Homo sapiens: one gene and its partners. The protein of the gene in region 3 interacts with the protein of the main gene of each other region in a pairwise test. Each region holds a gene or a part of one and is shown on either strand. Other genes may lie near its edges.

The links. Proteins that work in one complex are often made in the same cells at the same time.
Region 1: the proteins of BACH2 (region 3) and AP1M1 interact in binary tests that used the Homo sapiens proteins (3 or more experiments, as listed by UniProt).
Region 2: the proteins of BACH2 (region 3) and MAFG interact in binary tests that used the Homo sapiens proteins (3 or more experiments, as listed by UniProt).

Annotation. Positions count from the first base shown.
Region 1 is NC_000019.10:16,242,902-16,246,428, forward strand, and holds the end of AP1M1 (AP-1 complex subunit mu-1), read left to right. Parts: 3' UTR 1-3,005; downstream 3,006-3,527. UniProt on the Homo sapiens protein: Subunit of clathrin-associated adaptor protein complex 1 that plays a role in protein sorting in the trans-Golgi network (TGN) and endosomes.
Region 2 is NC_000017.11:81,917,748-81,924,744, forward strand, and holds the end of MAFG (transcription factor MafG), read right to left. Parts: exon of another isoform or gene 6,021-6,997; intron 5,720-6,020; exon of another isoform or gene 5,606-5,719; intron 5,486-5,605; exon of another isoform or gene 5,468-5,485; 5' UTR 5,439-5,467; coding exon 5,403-5,438; exon of another isoform or gene 5,311-5,402; coding exon 4,858-5,310; 3' UTR 523-4,857; downstream 1-522. Other genes in the region: SIRT7 (NAD-dependent protein deacetylase sirtuin-7), read right to left, coding at 83-220, 292-384. UniProt on the Homo sapiens protein: Since they lack a putative transactivation domain, the small Mafs behave as transcriptional repressors when they dimerize among themselves.
Region 3 is NC_000006.12:90,293,841-90,301,817, reverse strand, and holds the start of BACH2 (transcription regulator protein BACH2), read left to right. Parts: upstream 1-4,974; 5' UTR 4,975-5,338; intron 5,339-6,611; exon of another isoform or gene 6,612-7,977. UniProt on the Homo sapiens protein: Transcriptional regulator that acts as a repressor or activator. Binds to Maf recognition elements (MARE). Plays an important role in coordinating transcription activation and repression by MAFK.

The sequences.
Region 1 (3,527 bases), on a different chromosome or scaffold from region 3:
CACCACCATGCTTGGCTAAATTTTTTTATTTTTGTATTTTTTTTATTTTTAGTAGAGACAGGGTTTTGCCATGTTGGCCAGGCTGGTCTTGAACCCTGACCTCAGGTGATCCACCCCCACTGGCCTCCCAAAGTGCTAGTGGCAGGTGTGAGCCACCACACACGGCCAGAATAGACTTTAAAGCAAGAAAGCAAAAGAAAAAATGTATTAGATCCCCGAGAAGTTTCCACACAACTCCAAGAATTATTATTAGAGTTCCCACTCTCTGAGGAATTTTCAAGAGAAATTAGTTAGAATTCAACAAGAAATAAATTACTTTAAAATATTTCCAAATATGAGAGGTTTTTTTTGTTTTTGTTTTTGTTTTTGTTTTTGTTTTTGTTTTGAGAAAGGGTCTCTGTTGCCCAGGCTGGAGTGCAGTCAGTGGCACGATGTCAGCTCACTGCAACCTTGGCCTCCTAGGCTGAAATAGTCCTCCCATCTCAGTCTCACAAGTAGCTGGGATTACAGGTGAGCACCACCAAGCTCAGCTATTTTTTTTTTTTTTTTGTATTTTTAGTAGAGATGGAGTTTTGCCATGTTGCCCAGGCTGGTCTTGCACTTGGGCTCAAGTGATCCACCTGCCTCAGCCTCCACAGTGCTGGAATTACAGGTGTGAGTCACCATGCCCAGCCAATATGAGAGATTTTAAAGCACATTTTTCAATCACCATGTGTCAAAGAAGAAAATATAATGGAAGTTAGAAAATATTAGAGAATGGCCAGGTGCAGTGGCTCATGTCTATAATCCCAGCACTTTAGGAGGCTGAAGCAGGTGAATCACTTGAGCTCAGGAGTTCGAGACCAGCCTGGCCAACATGGCGAAAATCCATCTCTACTAAAAATACAAAAATTAACCAGGTGTAGTGGCACACGCCTGTAAATCCCAGCTACTCAGGAGGCTGAGGCCCAAGAATGGCTTGAACCCTGGAGGCAGAGGTTGCAGTGAGCTGAGATTGTGCCACTGCACTCCAGCCTGGGCAACGAAACGAGAGTCTGTCTCCAAATAAATAATTAGAGAATATTTTTCAATCTGGATGCAGGTGACATGGGTGTGCTCTCGAGAATCCATCAAGCATTGATGATTTGCACACTCTTTTGTGTATATGTTACACTTCAGCAAAAACATTCACAAAGGGGAAAAAGGCAAAAGATACTTAAAGCAGCCAGAGGTAAAGACACATCACCTTCAGACATGACAACCAGACAGACAGACAGCTGGCTTTTCAAAGGAACCCAGAAAACAGTTGGGTGACATTTTCAACATGCTAAAAGAAAACCACTAACCCAAATCAGAGACCCAGCAAAAGTATTTCAAGAATGAGGTTACAGTAAAAACATTTTGCAGACAAATAACGAAAGAGTTTGCCAGCAGCAGGCTAACACTAAAGAAAATTGTAAACAGTGTACTCACATCAGGCACAAGGAAAGTGATCTCAGACGGAAGGGCATGATGCAAGAAGAAATAAAAGCAAAGAAGTAGAAAATACATGAGAAAATCTAGACAAAGATTGCATAAACAGTTTCTGGAGTTTTTTTAAGTGATAGAATTATACAACAGGAAAAAAAGTCTGCAGGGAGTAAACTGAGTTAAAATGTTCCAAGTTAATGACTGTCTGGGAGGAGAATAAATAACATGGATACACTTTGGGAGGCCGAGGCGGGCGGATCACGAGGTCAGGAGATCGAGACCATCCTGGCTAACACGGTGAAACCCCGTCTCTACTAAAAATACAAAAAATTAGCCGGGCGCGGTGGCGGGCGCCTGTAGTCCCAGCTACTCCGGAGGCTGAGGCAGGAGAATGGCGTGAACCCGGGAAGCGGAGCTTGCAGTGAGCCGAGATTGCGCCACTGCAGTCCGCAGTCCGGCCTGGGCGACAGAGCGAGACTCCGTCTCAAAATAAATAAATAAATAAATAAATAACATGGATAAAATTTGTTGTTTGTTGTTGTTGTTGTTGTTGTTGTTGTTGTTGAGACGGAGTTTCGCTCTTGTTGCCCAGGCTGGAGTGCAATGGCGCGGTCTTTGCTCACTGCAACCTCTGCATCCCGGGTTCAAGCTATTCTCCTGCCTCAGCCTCCTGAGTAGCTGGGATTACACGATGCGCCACCAGGCCTGCCTAACTTTGTATTTTTGGTAGAGGCGGGGTTTCTCCATGTTGGTCAGGCTGGTCTCAAACTCCCGACCTCAGGTGATCCGCCCGCCTCGGCCTCCCAAAGTGCTGGGATTACAGGCATGAGCCACTGCGCCCAGCCAAATCTGCATTTTGATAAGTATGCATTTTACTATCTAAGGGAGCTAAAACATTTTTATTATTTTAGCACTGTAACTTTGCTTTTCTTCTTTGTTTTGTTTTTTTGAGACAGAGTCTCACTCTGTCGCCCAGGCTGGAGTGCAGTGGCGTGATCTCAGCTCACTGCAACCTCCACCTCCTGGGTTCAAGCAATTCTCCTGCCTCAGCCTCCTGAGTAGCCAGGATTACAGGTGCACGCCACCACACCCAGCTAATTTATGTAATTTTATAGAGTTGTGGTTTCACCATATTGGCCAAGCTGGTCTAGAACTCCTGGCCTCAAGTGATCCACCTGCCTCGGCCTCCCAAAGTGCGGGGAGACCAGAATTCCACCCAGAATGACCTCTCTGTTCCTAGGAGTGTGACAGCATTTGGGGGGGAAAATAGCGTAGAGTTGGAATTTTTAAAATTCAGTTTGACAAAATGACTTTTAGCTGGAGCATTAAGTCCCTTTACATTTAATGTAATAACTGATATTACATTTAAGTATAAATTTAAATCTACCGTCTTACTTTGTTTTCTATTTTTGTCCTTTCTATGTTCTCTTTTATGTCCTCTCTGGATTTATTACAGATTGTTTGTGGCTTTTAAAAAAAGTCATTGCTTGAATGATGAGAGCTTATATTTAAAAAGGCAGGGGGCTAAAATAAATAAATAATTTAAAAAATAAAAATAAAGTCATTGTTTTCCTTTGAATGTTTGAGAGTTACAATTCTAGGCTGGGCGAGGTGGCTCAAGCCTGTAATCCCAGCGCTTTGGGAGGCCAGCCCAGGTGGATCACCTGAAGTCAGCATCGTGAAACCCCATCTCTACTAAAAATACAAAAATTAGCCGGGCACAGCGGCATGTGCCTGTAATCCCAGCTACTCGGGAGGCTGAGGCAGGAGAATCACTCGAACCTGGGAGGCGGAGGTTTCAGTGAACCAAGATCTCACCATTTCACTCTAGCCTGGGCAACAAGAGCAAAACTCCATCTCAAAAAGAAAGAAATATATATGAGTAGATATTAAATGTGTACACATATATACATATATAAAGGCTAAAATAATGATCTAAGCCTCCATCTCAAGAAGTTAGAAAAAGAACAACAAAATAAATGTAAGAGCACAGAAAGAAGGAAATAATAGGGAGTAGATACAAAGAAAATGGAAAAGAAACACTCAATAAAGAAAATCAACAAAGTGAGTTTATTTAA
Region 2 (6,997 bases), on a different chromosome or scaffold from region 3:
CCGGGCCGCCCCACCCGGGACCGCCCGTCGCCCCAGCTGCTCCCGAAACCGGGGGCGCCCGCGCGCCGCACGCGGAACTCGCCTCCTCCTGCCGCCGCTTCAGGCCCTCGCGCCGCCGGCTCCGGCCCTGCAGCTCCGTTACCAGGTCCGCGCTCTCGGCCAGCAGCCGGCCCTCCTCGGCGCTGCGCTCCGCCGCCGCCTTCCTCAGGATGCGCGACACCTGCGGGCAGGCGGACGGTGAGCGGCGGCGCGGGCCGGGCATGGCCGGGCCGGGGAGCGGCGGCGGCGTACCTGGCGGAGGCGCTCCCTCTGCTGCTCCTCCCGCAACCTCCGGACCCGCTCCGCCGCTTTGCGCTCGGAGCGGCTCAGACCCCCGGCTGCCATCGCTCCCCTGGAGACCTGCTCTTCCGCTTCCGCCTCACACGGCAGGCCGCGCTCAGGGCGCATGCGCAAGATGGGCCCCGCCCCCACCCACCCCTTCCGGCTCCGCCCGCCGCGTCGCCCCAAAGAAGCACCTGCCAGTCTCTTTAAAAGGTTTATTGATCATATACAAAATAAAGAAAACCTTATATATCACAAACATACACTATGTACAGCAATAAATACCCGGGGGGCCAGGCCCAGTGCTGCCCCTCCTGGACAATAATTTAGCAATAAATACTGCGCAGGGCAGGGGTAGGGCACCAAGGCCACTGCCCTGCAAGAGGTCAGGCCCCTGCCCGCCCTACACGAAGTGTGAGCGCTCGGGCCTCACCCCGCATCCAAACCCCAGCCCCTCCTCACTTAGATCTTTAATAACCTCCATCCCACCCCAGCAGATCCCGGGGTCTTCTCCCACACACACAACCTCCCCTGGCTAGACCTAGGCAGGGCAGGCAGGGACTGATCAACTCTGCTTGGACCCACCTCTCAGCGCCAGGAGAGCAACAGGGCTGGACACGCGGGCAGCCCTTGTCCTGTTGCCAGGAGAAGGCTTTCTGTGCCCACTCCCGTTTGGTTAAAGGCTTCAGGGACTAGCAGATTGAGGGGGTGGGAAGAAGGGCAGGGCTGGGACACAAGGTTGCTGGAGGGGCCAAAGCCCAACTGGGGTCACCAAGAACAGGGAGGTCTCACAGTTTATCGGGGACACACTCTAGCTCAGACTCAAGGGACACCCATGGTATCAAAGCTGCTGCTCCAGGGGCAGGGTGGAAATGTGTGGGACTGGCCCAGCAGGTATGGTACACACCCAGGACACAGGCCAGAGGCAGGACAGGCATTAGTCTCTCAGACACGCCCTGCCTCTGTGTGGCACTGATTATGTACTCTACTCTCCCGACCTGCTCCAAGGCCAGACAGCCAACAGGAAGGCAAAAATACACCAAAAAGAATTATTCAGTGGCTTCTGGGGGAAAAATCGTTAATGTGTTGGTTCCTTTCACCAAACCACAGCCTAAAAAAGTAACTCACAAGATCCCAGAGCGGAAACGGTGCAGCAGGCTGCGGCTCCGACTTTCCAGATGTGGATGGGCGCTTTGGCCAAGTGGCCACTCCAGAGGGAGGCAGCAGGGACAACATGGGACCTGACCATCGTCCCAAAGCAGGCTGCAGCCGCTCAGGGCCGTGGGCCGGGCCCTGATCACCAGTCAGAAGTGTACACACATATCTGAAACATGCACCAAGAGCTGAGCCAGCAACACCAGTGCCACCCCGAGCAGCAGCCAGGGGCCTCACTCTCCTGGTGAGAGCTGACCTGTCCCTGCTGGGTATTCCTCTGAAATCTGAGCGTCCATGTTAGGATAAAAGAGGAGTTGGGGCAAAGTTAAGGTGGAAGGGAAGACATATATCATGGTTTACTTGGCGGACAAGTTTGAGAGACCTGGCCTTGGCCAAAGCCCTCGATTCGCTGTGTCAGAAAAACTGAGGTGAGAAGAGACCACCACCCTCTCCACCACCCTCTCAGTAGGAAAGCGGGATCAACAGAGATCAGAAGGACAGCACACTCACACCTGCACATGAACACACCATCTATGTCAGGAAATCCAGGGGAAGGGGAAGAGGGGTGGAGTGGCTCCGCAGGGCTGACCTGACAGGGGACAGGAACACTCCCCTAGACCCAGGGAAGTCGCCCCAAATCCAAAGCTCTTGAAAGGAGGTATGGCCTCGAAACTCCAGAAGCCTCTTCTGCCAACGCACCGAGGACCTGCACCTCCCATTCAGCACGCGTCGACCCTTACACCCTCCTCTTCCACACTCCCTTCGCCTCCAGGTCTGCAGCCTGGCAGAGGTGCTCAAAATGGATGGCCACCCACAGCCAGGACAAAAGTGGGGGCTGCACAAGGACAAGGAGGGCCTGTTTCTCCCCACTCCGAGGCAGATCATGACGTTTTCTTCATGGATACTTATGATATGATTCCAACTAACGCCTGGATTCTACTTAGACAAGATCAGACTGAGGGGAGGGGGATGAAGTCACTAAATGACAAGAGTCAACAGCCAATATTTCCATTTTCAGGCTGACGCAGGTAGACACAGGACTTGTCTCTGAACACCTCGAGCAAAGAAAAGCTCATTAACATGACAAGTGTTGATGGTGCCTCCCTGTTCCCATCCTGTGGGCACACCAGGCCAAACTATTGGATAAAAATCCCACCATCCATAGGGTTAAGCCCTGTTGGGCCACAGTTTTTCATCTTACCCACATCTGTGTGCTTTACAGAAGTCTGGGCCCCACAGAAAAGAAACCAGCAACCCGGTGAAAGGCCAGGGCTCACATGGCCAGACACAGGGCTGTAGCCTCTTGGAGGTGGGTAGGGGCACCCCCTCCCCATCATATGCCTACAAGGAGCCTCCTGAGCCCAGCCAGGAAGGGCAGCAGCCTCTGGCGAGGAACTGAGAGCAGGAGGCAGGCTGCGCCCCCACAGGGAGGCACCTCCAGCAGAAGCCAAGCAGCTGATCCCTGGAAGACACAGATCCCAAAGGGAGGCAGAAGGCAGGCCCGAAGCCAAGAGCTGCCAGCGTGGACCAGCGGAGAAGAGGGACAAGACCCGGCCCTGGAGACTGTAGCCCTTGTCTGCACTGGTGGAGACCCCCAAGGCTCTCAGAGTGAGGCAGGGACAAGGAAGAAAGGGCGGTGCCCGGTGGGCCCCCACCCACTCTGCCTGGAAGCACCACCCGCAGCATGGAAACACCTCAGGGATCAAGCGGGCGGCGAGACCTGCAGCCCACGGCGCGGGCAGCCTATAGGAACAAAGCTGAGGCCAGAGGAAGACGGCCAGGGAACGCTTGGCCATAGCCCTGTGGCCACCCACAGTGACTCCCTCATCCCTGTAATGCCACCACCCAAGGCCAGAGGTGGTGGGTGTGGAAGCAGCGTGGGGCGCCCCAAGGGACCCCAGTTTCACCTACCCCGCCACTAGATCAGCCCAAGCCCTAGACACAGATGTAGCCAAGGCTCAGTGGAGGGGGGCATGACAGAACCCCATGTCTCACCTCCTACGGACCAGGAGCTGGTGGTGGGCACAGATTCCTTGAGCTCTGACGCAGCAGGCGCCACTTGGCACCCCAGCCCAGGTCCAGCAAGCCAGCAGAAGCAAAAGCACAACTAAACCCAAAAAACGAACACGGGAAAACAGACACAAGAAGTGACACCCACAGGTCAAAGGTCACCAGAAGCACCAGCACTTTACCGCTGCACAAAACCTCACCAGGCACGGACGACACCACGGCACCGGCAAGAGACGGAAGCAGGAAGGGCAGAGGAGTAAGTCACTTTCGGTACAATTGCAAAAGATATCAAAGAGGACGGCCTTCTGGTCGGCTCACGGCTTGGCTTTTTTTTTTTTGTCTTTTTTTTAAACTAAGTTTTATAAATAATGTCTGATAACTCTGTGTATATAAAAACTAAACTCCAACAGCCACAAAGAGGTGTCCGTAAGTTTACAAGAAAGGGATTTTTTTTCTTTTTTTTTCTTTTTTTTTTAACTAGCAAAGTTTCTATTATACTTTCTTCCCTTTTCCATTCATATGGTCAAATGGTCTTCTTGCTTGTTTTTTTTCTAAAAGACAGTTTTATAAATACTCTGCAGCTCTTTTTTCTTTAACTTTTAAACATATAATTAATTTAATAACTTTGTAAAAGGAACTTCTCTCTTTTAAATAAAGGGCTATATAACCACACAAATAGGTCATGTAAACAGTGACACGGGACCCATCGCAGGGCACACTGGACCCACCCTCACGTTAAGCGCACAACCAGAGATTTGGTCTTGTTCAGTGCAACGGGTCAGGCCTGAGTGCACAGCCCCTGGGCCCAGCTGCACGCCCCCAGCACCACTGCGCCCAGGCTGGTGGTCCACCCATCAGGGCCTTCAAGCCCGCCCTACTCTCAGAGCAGAGCCCATCTCTTCATGCTGGGCTAAGCTGAGCTGCTCCCCTGGGGCTAAAGAGAGTGAATCCTTCCCAGCCCGCGAGCCTGTGGCCACTCGGGAGTGGAGGGAACACTGGGACCCTCACTGCTCGGGGACACGCGAGGCCCAGCGTGCCTGCTCCTTCTCTCTCCCGCAACTCTCTCTAGTCCGTTCCCACAGCACCAACTCTGGACTCCAAGCCTGCATGGCCCTGGTACAAAAGGGGTTGGGGCGACCCCACGTCACCGCCGAACTGACCAATCCCAACATACAAAACACACGACGACAATGACGAGATCAAAGGGGCTCAGCCCGGCGCCCCTGGGGTACAGGTTGTGCTTTGCAGGGAAGAGAGAAGGGTGGGGAAGAGAGGGAGGAAAGAGAAGAGAAGGAAACAGAGGGACAGGGCAGCCAAATTCGCCATGTGCCTAGTGGCCCCGCAAAGACCCGCCTGGGCAGACGCGCGTCCCTACGATCGGGCATCCGTCTTGGACTTTACTATTGTGATGACGCTGGTGGCGGCCACCTTGCCTGGGACGAGGGGCCCCAGGCCGGCGGCAAGGGGGCCCCGGGCTGGCGCCACGGGGCTGCGGGCCACCGTCCGGGCGAAGGTCTGCAGCGCCTCGTACTTGGAGCGCAGCGCGTCGAGCTCCAGCTTCATGCTGGCGTTCTCTGAGGCCAGCTTCTCCACCTCCTGCTGCAGCTCCGCCTTCTGCTTCTCCAGCTCCTCCTTCTGCGTCACCCGCTTCACGCGGCAGCTGGCAGCGTAGCCGCGGTTCTTGAGCGTGCGCCGGCGCTGCTTCAGCTGGACGATCTCCTCCTTGGACAGGCCCCGCAGGTGCTGGTTCAGCTCCCGCACCGACATGGTCACCAGCTCCTCATCCGTCAGGCTGGTGCCATTCTCACCCGGCTCCCGCTTCACCTGGGGCACAGTGCAGGTGGTCACAGGCCAAGCGGGCACGCCCACTGTGCCCCCCGACCCCAGCCCACAGGCTCCTGTCCCTGCCCACTCACCTTCAAGGCCTTGTTTCCTTTATTGGGGGTCGTCATAACCCGGGGGCACAGCGAGCAGGCGCTCTCTGCAAGACACGGAGCAGGTCAGTACCCTGGAGACCACCCTCGCCGCACCCCCCCCCCCCCGCCCCCGGCCCAGTTCACAAGAGCCCTTGCCGCACAGCCCGCCCCAGCCTGCTGTCCAGGTGCCCAGCCCCCAATACCTGATAGGAGGCAGCCCTTGGCCTCTCCCAGGCTGGGCTGAGCTGCTTCCTGTCCACCCTGCCCCTAGAGAACCAGGTGGGAGGTCAGGAAGGTCTGACGGGAGAAGGGGAACTGAAGGCTGTTAGGAAGGCAGGCGCAAGACAAGGGGCAGGGGAGAGATTAGAAGGAATAAGACGCGGGAGAGGCAGGCCTAGAAGGAAGCCGGGAGCTTTAAAAATAACCCCGGCACTGCCCAGAGCGCGGCTGTTCCTGGCGAGTCACGCTGACTCAGCACATTGCCTCTGCCTCCCCGCCGCGCCCGCACTCCCTGGCCCGCCAGCCAACAGCGCCCCACGAGAGCCGCAGCCCCCAGCCTGGCCAATAGCAGGTGAGGGCCAGCCAGTGACCCTGTGTGTGCATCTTCCAGGGTCCTACCTTCTACAGCCACCTCCCCTGAGCCGGCCTCGGACAAAGCCCCCTGCTCCCTGGGTGCACAGGGGCCCCACGGGGGACCTGGCCAGAGAGGAGGCTACAGGGAACCCCGAGTCTCCCAGCCTCCTAACTTTGAAAAGCTGGGGGTGGGCCGTCCATCTAGCTCTGGTCTGTTGGCAGGACTGACCAGGGAGTTCCCCCACCTTCCAGGTGGCAGGCCATCAGCTGGGAGGAGCCTGGCCCGAGGCCCCTCTAGACCTCCCAGTCGGCCTCCTCCACTGATGGAGTAACCATCCTGTGGCTTTGGGTTGCAGGAAGCAGCCCCTGCCCCACCCCATCCAGGGTATTTCACAAGGGCTCCCACAGTGAGCCACCCCGGGCCTGCCCAACGTGAAGGCTGGCGGAGTCAGCCCCTCCGAGCTGCAGCCTGCTCTCTGGTCCCTGCCCCGGGTGAGTGCCCACAGGGCCAGGGAGCAAAAACAAAAGTGCTGGGGTGGCCGGACTTAACAACCAACTCTTCCCCACTCGGGGTCCCTCCAGCACTCTGCTCTCACTTTCTTGCTAAGGATGTTTCTGGGATTCCCAGCTCAGCCCAGCTCCCACCAGACCCTTGGGCATGGACCCCCGCCTCATGCTCCATCCCCCACTTTCCAGGTTTGATGCAGACAGATGGGAGACTCCTCCAGAGGAGCTAGGATCACTTCAGGAAATTATGGGCTGGGGGGCTTCTTACTCTCATCAGGGGAGCTGAAGTGTGGCCAGGCGGATGCACACATCCTCACCAGGCTCAAGACTCCACCTCACCCAGCCTGGGACCAGGAGGTGAGGCTGCAAGCACAGAGCAGGGAGGGGAGGCCAGAGACCCCTCCCCACAGCCAAGCCAGCTCAGAGGCAAGGTCCCGAGGCTCCAGCCACTGGATTCTTCCAGATAAAGGATGGGGAAGACCTGAGCTGGAGGTCAGAAGGCCCACAGGAGCCCT
Region 3 (7,977 bases):
CCTTCATAATTTGTTTTTCCTCTTAACATCTACAATACTTAAGTTCTTGTTAGAATTTAATTATGCATATTTTGAATTTTACAACATTTATTGGCTACCTTTATTACAGAAGTAATATATTTATATTACAGAAAATTTTTTTAAAAAGCAAAAGTAAAACCACTTATAGGCTCTTTATTTCAAGAGAACCACTTGAACACTGTGCATATAGCCTTCCAGATTTTTCCTATGCATGCACTGGCAATTTTTTTTCACAAATAGGATCCTATTGTAAATAGTTATACAAATTATTGTTAAACTATACTAACAAAATATTAATATATCAATATACATAAATTTTCATCACTAATTTTTTTCATTATTATTATTATTTTTGGTAGAGATGGGGTTTCACTATGTTGTCCAGGCTGGTCTCAAACTCCTGAGCTCAAGAAATTTGCCTGCTTCAGCCTCTCAAAGTGCTGGGATTATAGGCATGAGCCACCGTGCCCAGCCACCAATATTATTTTTGATGGATCCATGATATTCATATTTTATATATGAACCACCATTTATTTAGCCAATCATTTCCTGTAAGGCATTTGGATTTTTCCATTTTCTTTTTGCTATCATACAAAAAAGATCTGTACATTCTTAATTTTTTCATTAGTATAAATTATAACACATACAATTTCTATATAATTTTAAATATTAATATATAAAAGTAATAAAATCAAATACAAAATTACATTTTTCAATTGTTTCATGTATATTAGTTTTGACTCCTTATGTAGATTTAAGTTCCTTAAGGATACAGTCCAATGTTTCTTAATTTTTCACCTCAACATGTAACAGATGCTCAGTAGTGTATGTTGAAAAATTAGTTTATTTCATATACCATATTTTACTAGTTTATTTCATATAAGCTTTTAGATAATAGTGGCATCAATTCTTTACTATAGAAGAAGATCACTATAGATAGTAATATAAGAACATCACTTTCTTTTAGGGACTATTTCCAAAGTCCTTCTTAGGAACTGAGGCAATCTTTGAGGAGATGAAGATGGGACAGATAAGAGATATACAGTTTGAAGGAAAAAGGCTGCCAGCCAAATTTAACAATAGCTAGAAGCAAAATTTTTGCTTTTCTGGTTTGGATTGCCCTGATCATTTTTCAAAACTTGTGTGAGATTTTGTACAATGAGAAATCTCTTCTTGGCAGTGGTGTGTCCAGAAAGCCCCCAGGAGTGGGCCCCCAAGGTCCTCTGTGCCGTCCAGCAATTCTGCCACATCCCTGGCACTGGTTCACATCTTTTCTCTATCCCCTAAATCTATCCTTCCCTCCTCCACTATCAGTGAACGGTCTATCTTCTTACTCCACTAAGAAAACAGAATTCCTCAGACAACGGCTTCCCATACTTCCTACCATGATATTCCAGCCTCCCTGCACTTCCCCACCTGTGCTGCCCTTCCTTCTGTTGGTTGGGATGAACTGGCCCCTTTCTCTCTCAAGGAAGCTTCTCAGCTTCCTTGTGGGGATCTTTTTTTCTTCATCTTGCTGACCTCTAAATGTCGGAGTGCCCCAGGTCTTAAACCTTAGACTTCTTCTCTTTGCTCCTCTTCTCCACCCATGTTTCCAGTTGCTGTGTTGATGACACACAGATTTCTATCTCTAGTCTGGACTTCTCCCCTAAATTCTAGATTCCCATGTCTGATTACCTGCTCACCTTTTCCACTTAGATGTCTGATAGACATCTGAAATGTACTATATCCAAAACCAAATGTTTCAGCATTTCCCCCATACCTGCTCCGCCTGGATAAATGAACTCTCCATTAATAAGCTGTTCAGTCCAAAATTCAGAATTTCCTTTGACTCTTCTCTCATATCCTACAATGGAATCATCAACAAATCTTGTCCGGTTTATGCTGAAAATATATCTGGATTCCATTTATGGCTGTCATTCTAGCATTCTATTAATAGTTTAAATCACCATCACCTCTCTAATGACTTATCTCAATAGCCTCCTACTTGGTCTCTCTGCTTCCATTCCTGTACTTCCCGTGACCCAGCAGAGTGATCCTTTAGGAGTTGAGGCCAGGACATGTTCCTTGTCTGCAGAAACCCCTACAGCATCCCACTCCATTCACTTTTGTCAGATTTCATTGGATGTTAAATTTGCCCTGCCATGCCTTATTCAAGGTACCACATTTGAAATTCTGTCTACTGTTCTGCCTAAGAAAAAATACAATATTTTCTCAACATCATCAAATCCTGTACAGGGTGCTGGAGAGCAAGAAAATCAAAGGCTCAAGAACTGCCCATGTCTTTAGTCCGTCTTCCTTTCCTCATCTGTTTCCTGTATATTTTAATTTTTCCTGTTTTATTTTCTACAATCAAGAAGATTTCTATTATAGAAATAAAGTTTATTTGTTTCAATGCCATGATACAGATTTATTGTCCCTGGAAATATCATGCTTAGAAATGAATCACAGACAAAGCCCATGCTCTGGATCAACACACATGTGTAATTATGTAGGAAAAAAATGTATATCAGGAAAGGTTGAATGCTCCAGGCATGAGAAATAAATTGACCTCCACTCAACTTACTGCCATGATTATACAGAGGGAAGGACCTGGATCTGTTTCACATCATAAACGCCTAAATTGCCAGAGCAGCACAAGCCCAGGAGTGGCCATGCAAACTCATGATGGAGGTGCTAAGGCTGTCCACAGCCCAACCTCTGCAGCAGTACTGTTAAATGAGTGTCTAGTACTTGACTTACCATTTTAATTTCACATAATTCTGAATGTATTTTTCGGCTTGAATTCAAATAACCCACTTCTAACTACCGAAAATAAAGTAGAAAAATGAACTCACTACCAGACTTCAAAGCTTATCCAAAGCAAAGATTTCGTCTTACAGCCAGAGGTGCATGATTGCAGAGCTGGATGTAACCTGAGAGGCTAACTACTCCTAATTCAGCCTCCTTGAATGACTGGATGATGCAACCTATCACAGGTGTTTTAGGTTTTTTCATCTCTATTTAATGTCCCACCTCATGCTTGAAAATCTCAAAGTGAAAAAGCTCCAGTCTGAGTCTTTGGGCAAGCAGACTAACTGAAATGACCTGTTAGCCTTTGTTGTATCCATCTGACAAGATCAGCTTGTAGAATCCAGAATGGAGGTGGGAGATCAGCTGGCAGCCTCATTTCCCTCCTCAACCACCCCTACGCTGATGTGCCCAACTCCACTCACAGCTGGGCAGCCACCGCTTGCTTGAAAATAAATGAATCTACACCACTCTCATACGGATGCTCTCAAGCATCCCTTGTTGTGAGAAAAACATTTATTGCTGCTACTAAAATGCGTAAAGTTATCTCACAAACACATACTTACAAGAATGAGGAATGAGAAACAGAACCATCCATAAAACTATAAGAAACGGCCTGGCCAGGGCAGACCAGGAATTAGTACTCTGTCCTTGCCAGGGGTCAGGCAGGGACCTCAGAAGCAGGGTGTTTTGTCCTAGGGGGCACCAGACCAGAGGTCAGGAGACTGAGGGCTACTCCTAGCTCTAGGACTTTTCCTTATCTGAAGGCCGGGTCGGTTAGCAGAGAAAATCTCACAGTCCCGTGCCAGACCTCCACGCAGGGACTCTGCAGTGCTGTTAGAAAAATTAGCTCAGCACCTTCAGCTTGCTTTCAGCCATCACTTAGCTTTCCACACAGACATTCCAAATGGGGCCTTTCAAAACTCTGCCCTCAAATGAAGGTAGTTCAGAGCAACACTTTAGATGATATCACAAGACTCCCAGGACGCTTCACTGCTTCCTCAGCATACGCCAGTGCCCGTTTTACAGGGGGGATTTATGATCCTTCTCTCAGTAGAGCGAGCCAAACTTTTATAATATTCATTAAAAATCAGCACCACGTGTAATAATATGGAATACTGCCTGTACACAAGAGGGCCAAGTTATAGGTGTTTAGGGAAACGTGGCAGAATTTTCTGGCCTTGGCAAGAGGTAAAGTTGCAGGCACCAGCACAACACTAACACAACCTTATTTTATTGCAAATGTACATTCAGCCTAAATCCTAATTACCTTCTGTAAAATCCTAACCACCACCAAGCTTTCTTCTGACAGGGCACTCACACGACGGCCTTTAAGGGCAGCAACAACATCCTAAGAGCCGCAGAAAGGAAAGGCAGGGGAGAGTGGCTGGAAGGCAGTAGGAGCTGGGGCTGAAGCCCGGGAGGTTGGCTTTTAATGTCCTCCTGAAATTGACCACTCTCTTTCCAAAAACACTGGCTTGGGGGCTTAAAGGTTCGCTCAGTAGGGCAGGCGGAGGGCCTCCTGAAAAGGATTGAGAAGTCAACATTCAAAAGGCTGCTTTTACTCGCCCGGTCCCCACCCAAAAGGGAGTCCGGTCAGCTTTGTGGGGGCCAGTGGAGCATCTTTTCTTGCCCTTCCGGGAAAACGCTAGCTAACCCTGGGATCCCCGGTCCCGACGTCTGCTCTCCTTCCCCAGGTGCAGCACCTAGGGCTCTGGCCCCCTCCCCACGTGCCACACCAGCCCTCACCACTACTCTCACCCTGCTATGCCCCCAACCCTCGTCTTTCGTGGCCGGGAAGGCCAGGCCGAGCGGGGCGGTCAGCCGGGCCGGGAGGAGGGGGCTCTCCGGGCCGCGCGGCCGCACAAAGCGGGGAGATCTGCTGCTGCGGCGGCATGAGGCGCGCCCCCTCCCGCGAGCCAGCGGAGCGCGCGCGCCCGCCCCCGTCCCCCGCCCCCCGCCCCAGCCCCCGGAGCGCCATTCGCGGAGCGGCTTACGCTAGTCGCCGGGCGTACCGCGCCCCAGCGGCCGGGGAGGTGCGCTGCCCGGCTCCCGTAAAGTTATTGTGAATGGGGAGCGGGTGACGTCAGCGCCGAATGTCAACAATGTAGCGATTGAGAGTGTGGGCGTTCCGGGGAGAGCGCAAGCCGCGCGGCGCGGAGCAAACAGCGCCGAGCCGCCGCCGCCTCAGCAGCAGCAGCAGCAGCAGCAGCGGCAGCAGCGGCCGTGCACGCCCGGGCTGCGGTCGCACAGCGCTAACGTGAGCGGCCGCCGCCCTCGCCACCCCGCCTGCCCACTCCCGCCGCCGCCCCGCTCTCGCTTTCCCCCCGGCCTCCCCTCGCCCCTTCCCCTCCCCCTTCCCGGCGCACTCGGGGGGCTGGGAACGAGCTGCCATGTGATGCGCGTCCCCTCCGCGAGCTTTCGGTGACCCACGAACTGCCCACCTCGCCGGCTGCCGGGAGGGGGCTGCGAGCCGGGAAGACGCGGGGAAGAGGAGGCGGAAAAGGACGCAAAGTTCTCCGGCGAGGTGAGTCCCGGGCCCCGGGCCCCGGGCCCCGCCGCTGGGCGGGGTGGCGGGGCAAGTTTGCGGGGGGAGCGGGCGCGCGGGGCGGGCGGGGAGGCGTGGGGAAACGGCGCGGGAAGGGAGCCCCGGCCGCCGGGCGCGCAGCCGCCCTCCCCGCGCCCTGCCCGCTTTTATGGCATTTTCTAGGAACGGGAAGGGGGTGGGAGCCGAGCCGGCGGCCGCGCCGCGCCGAATGTGTGCTCTCCCTCCCGGCTGTTTACGGCGGCCGAGGCGCATTGTATTTTGCTGGCGTCGAAGGGTGTTTTGGAACAGCAGAGGGAGGAGGAGCAGAGAGTAATAAGTCAGGCATGGGGAGGGCGGGCTGCAGGAGGCGCGCGTCCGCGCGAGCCGCAGCAGCTGTCAGACCCGCGGCCCTGCCCCCGGCCCGGCGAGGCCCGGGTGTCCCGGCCCCCAGCCTGCGATCCCAGCTCCAGGCCGGGCGGCCTCCTCCTTAACCCTCGGCGTGCGCATCCCGGGCTGCTCCGCGAGGACCTTGGCCGCGGCGCCTTTGCGCTCAGCTGTCAGCCGCCGCCGGGTGGCCCGGACCACCGCGACCGGCGGGGAATCAAAGCCCAAGTTTAGGGTCGCAGGAAGAGGCGAGCTGGGGGCCTCGCGGCGCAGACCTGGATCGAATCTCTCCTAGCGAAAGATCGGGTTGTCGGAAAGCGTCCCGCGTAGCTAAGACCTAAGGGCGCCAGGCTTCTGAGAGGGAAACCTTGCACCTCCTCTCCCACAGATCCTCCATGAAGTCAAGGTGCAACACACACACACACACACACACACACACACCCTACACTCCAGTCTCCAAGCCCCAGAAGCTTCACCCAGGAGACTGGTTTATGAAGGGGACACTGCCCTCCCCGTCCCCGCGTCGAGGCGCTCCGTGGCCCCGCTGTGCTTCGCTCACCCGGCGGGTGTTCGGGAGCCCGGCGCCGCTGGAGACGGCGGCGGGCGGCGCTCACGGGCTACCCTAGGTGCCCACGAGGGGAGAGACTGGAGCGAGCATCTCGGCGACCTCGGTCTGGCCAAGCATTTGCAGGAACTCGGACCGTGAGGGGAAGCGTGCAGGGCCGGGAGTGAGTGTGTGAAGGGGTGGCACACTCCTGGCTTCTGGGGTCGCGGGCGCATGGGGCATCCCCAGCACTCTCCCGCGCGTAGGCGAGTTTGGTAACTTGAGGGAAGTTCCGGCGCGGCCGCTGCCGGGGTGGTTTGTCTGTGGCCCGATGAGGCGCGCCTCGCAGCCTGCTCTCCCGGTCACCGCCGTCGCCGTGACCTGTGGCCTCCAGGAAACGAGAGGGACCGGGGCGCCCCACCCGCGAGACGGACCCGCAGTCTCCCGGCGGGCCCGCGGGCGGCGAGACGCGGCGTTCCTGGTTTTCACCTTCGCTGTCTAGTGCTGCAGTCTCTCACTCTCTGTAAATTTCATCTGTTGAGTGTATTTAACTAAAAAGGGTAATTACTTTAGATAAAAATCCTTTCCTGCCTAGTGGGAACCTTGGCGGAGATGATGCCTAATGAGATATTTTGCTTTTGTCTGTTTAGAGTAAAATTAGAGATGTTAACGCTGATAACGGTTTTCTCAGATCATTAAAATGTAACATGTAGGAAAGGCACGTCTTGCTGCAAAGGCTCGGGCTGACATGAAAGAAGCTGAGCGTGAAAGGCTGCCCCTCCTTTGGCGGAGAGGGCTATTTTGGTAAGGCAGCGGGCGTCTTGCTTAAAATGTGAGATCGCCCCACCCTGGTTCTCGGGCACCTCCCGAGTAAACGGCGTTTTTCATTCTTGCAGGTAATAATAAACGTGAGTCAAAATGACATCTTGTTAGAATTAGTCTTTAGTCTGTAAGAGAGATTGCCAAATTACAGTGTTGCGTTCAAACTGCTCCACTGAAAGGTCTGTCAGCATTTCCATTATAAATTCAGTTTTTCTGGAGTTTATAATTTCACCACAAAACTTTGAGTGGCTGAAATGTTTTCCCTTCTAGTATTCTGGTTTTTGAAAGAAATTTATTGATTGCCCATTTCCAACGTTTTTTTTACTCTCGAAACCTGAATATCATTGAAATAGAGCGAAGTCCCAGAAATGGAACACACAACCATGGAATAAAGTATTTTTGTTAGAACATAACTTTATTGGTGCAGAGCCGTATTTTCGTTTTGCATTGCAGGAGGCTTCAGGTTTGCCATTTGGTAATCATGAATGTGTTGAGTAAATTCTTCTGCTGTCTGTCTATTCTGCAGGTGGACTGAAATGTCAGTTGGTAGTGTGTTTGCCAGGATTACATGGAGACACACACTTCTCAGTTAAGTGTGTGTCTGAACTCATAGCTAAATTGTGAACACTCCTGTTAGTTACTTTTTTGGTTCTTTGTATGTTGCATGTCAGGATCTGCTATGAAGAAGAAGGGGTGAGGTGAAAGAGAGGGAGGGGATCAGGATTCACTTTCTGTATTACCAGTGCCTGGGAGAAAGCCATTTATTATTTTCCTATTGAATTATGCCCTTTGACTTAGTATCTTCAGGCAATTCTTTTCCAGTAGCTCACCTCTGGCTGCTGTGTAAGGGGCTTAATTATTTGCAAACTGCCTTGAAATCCCTGGATGA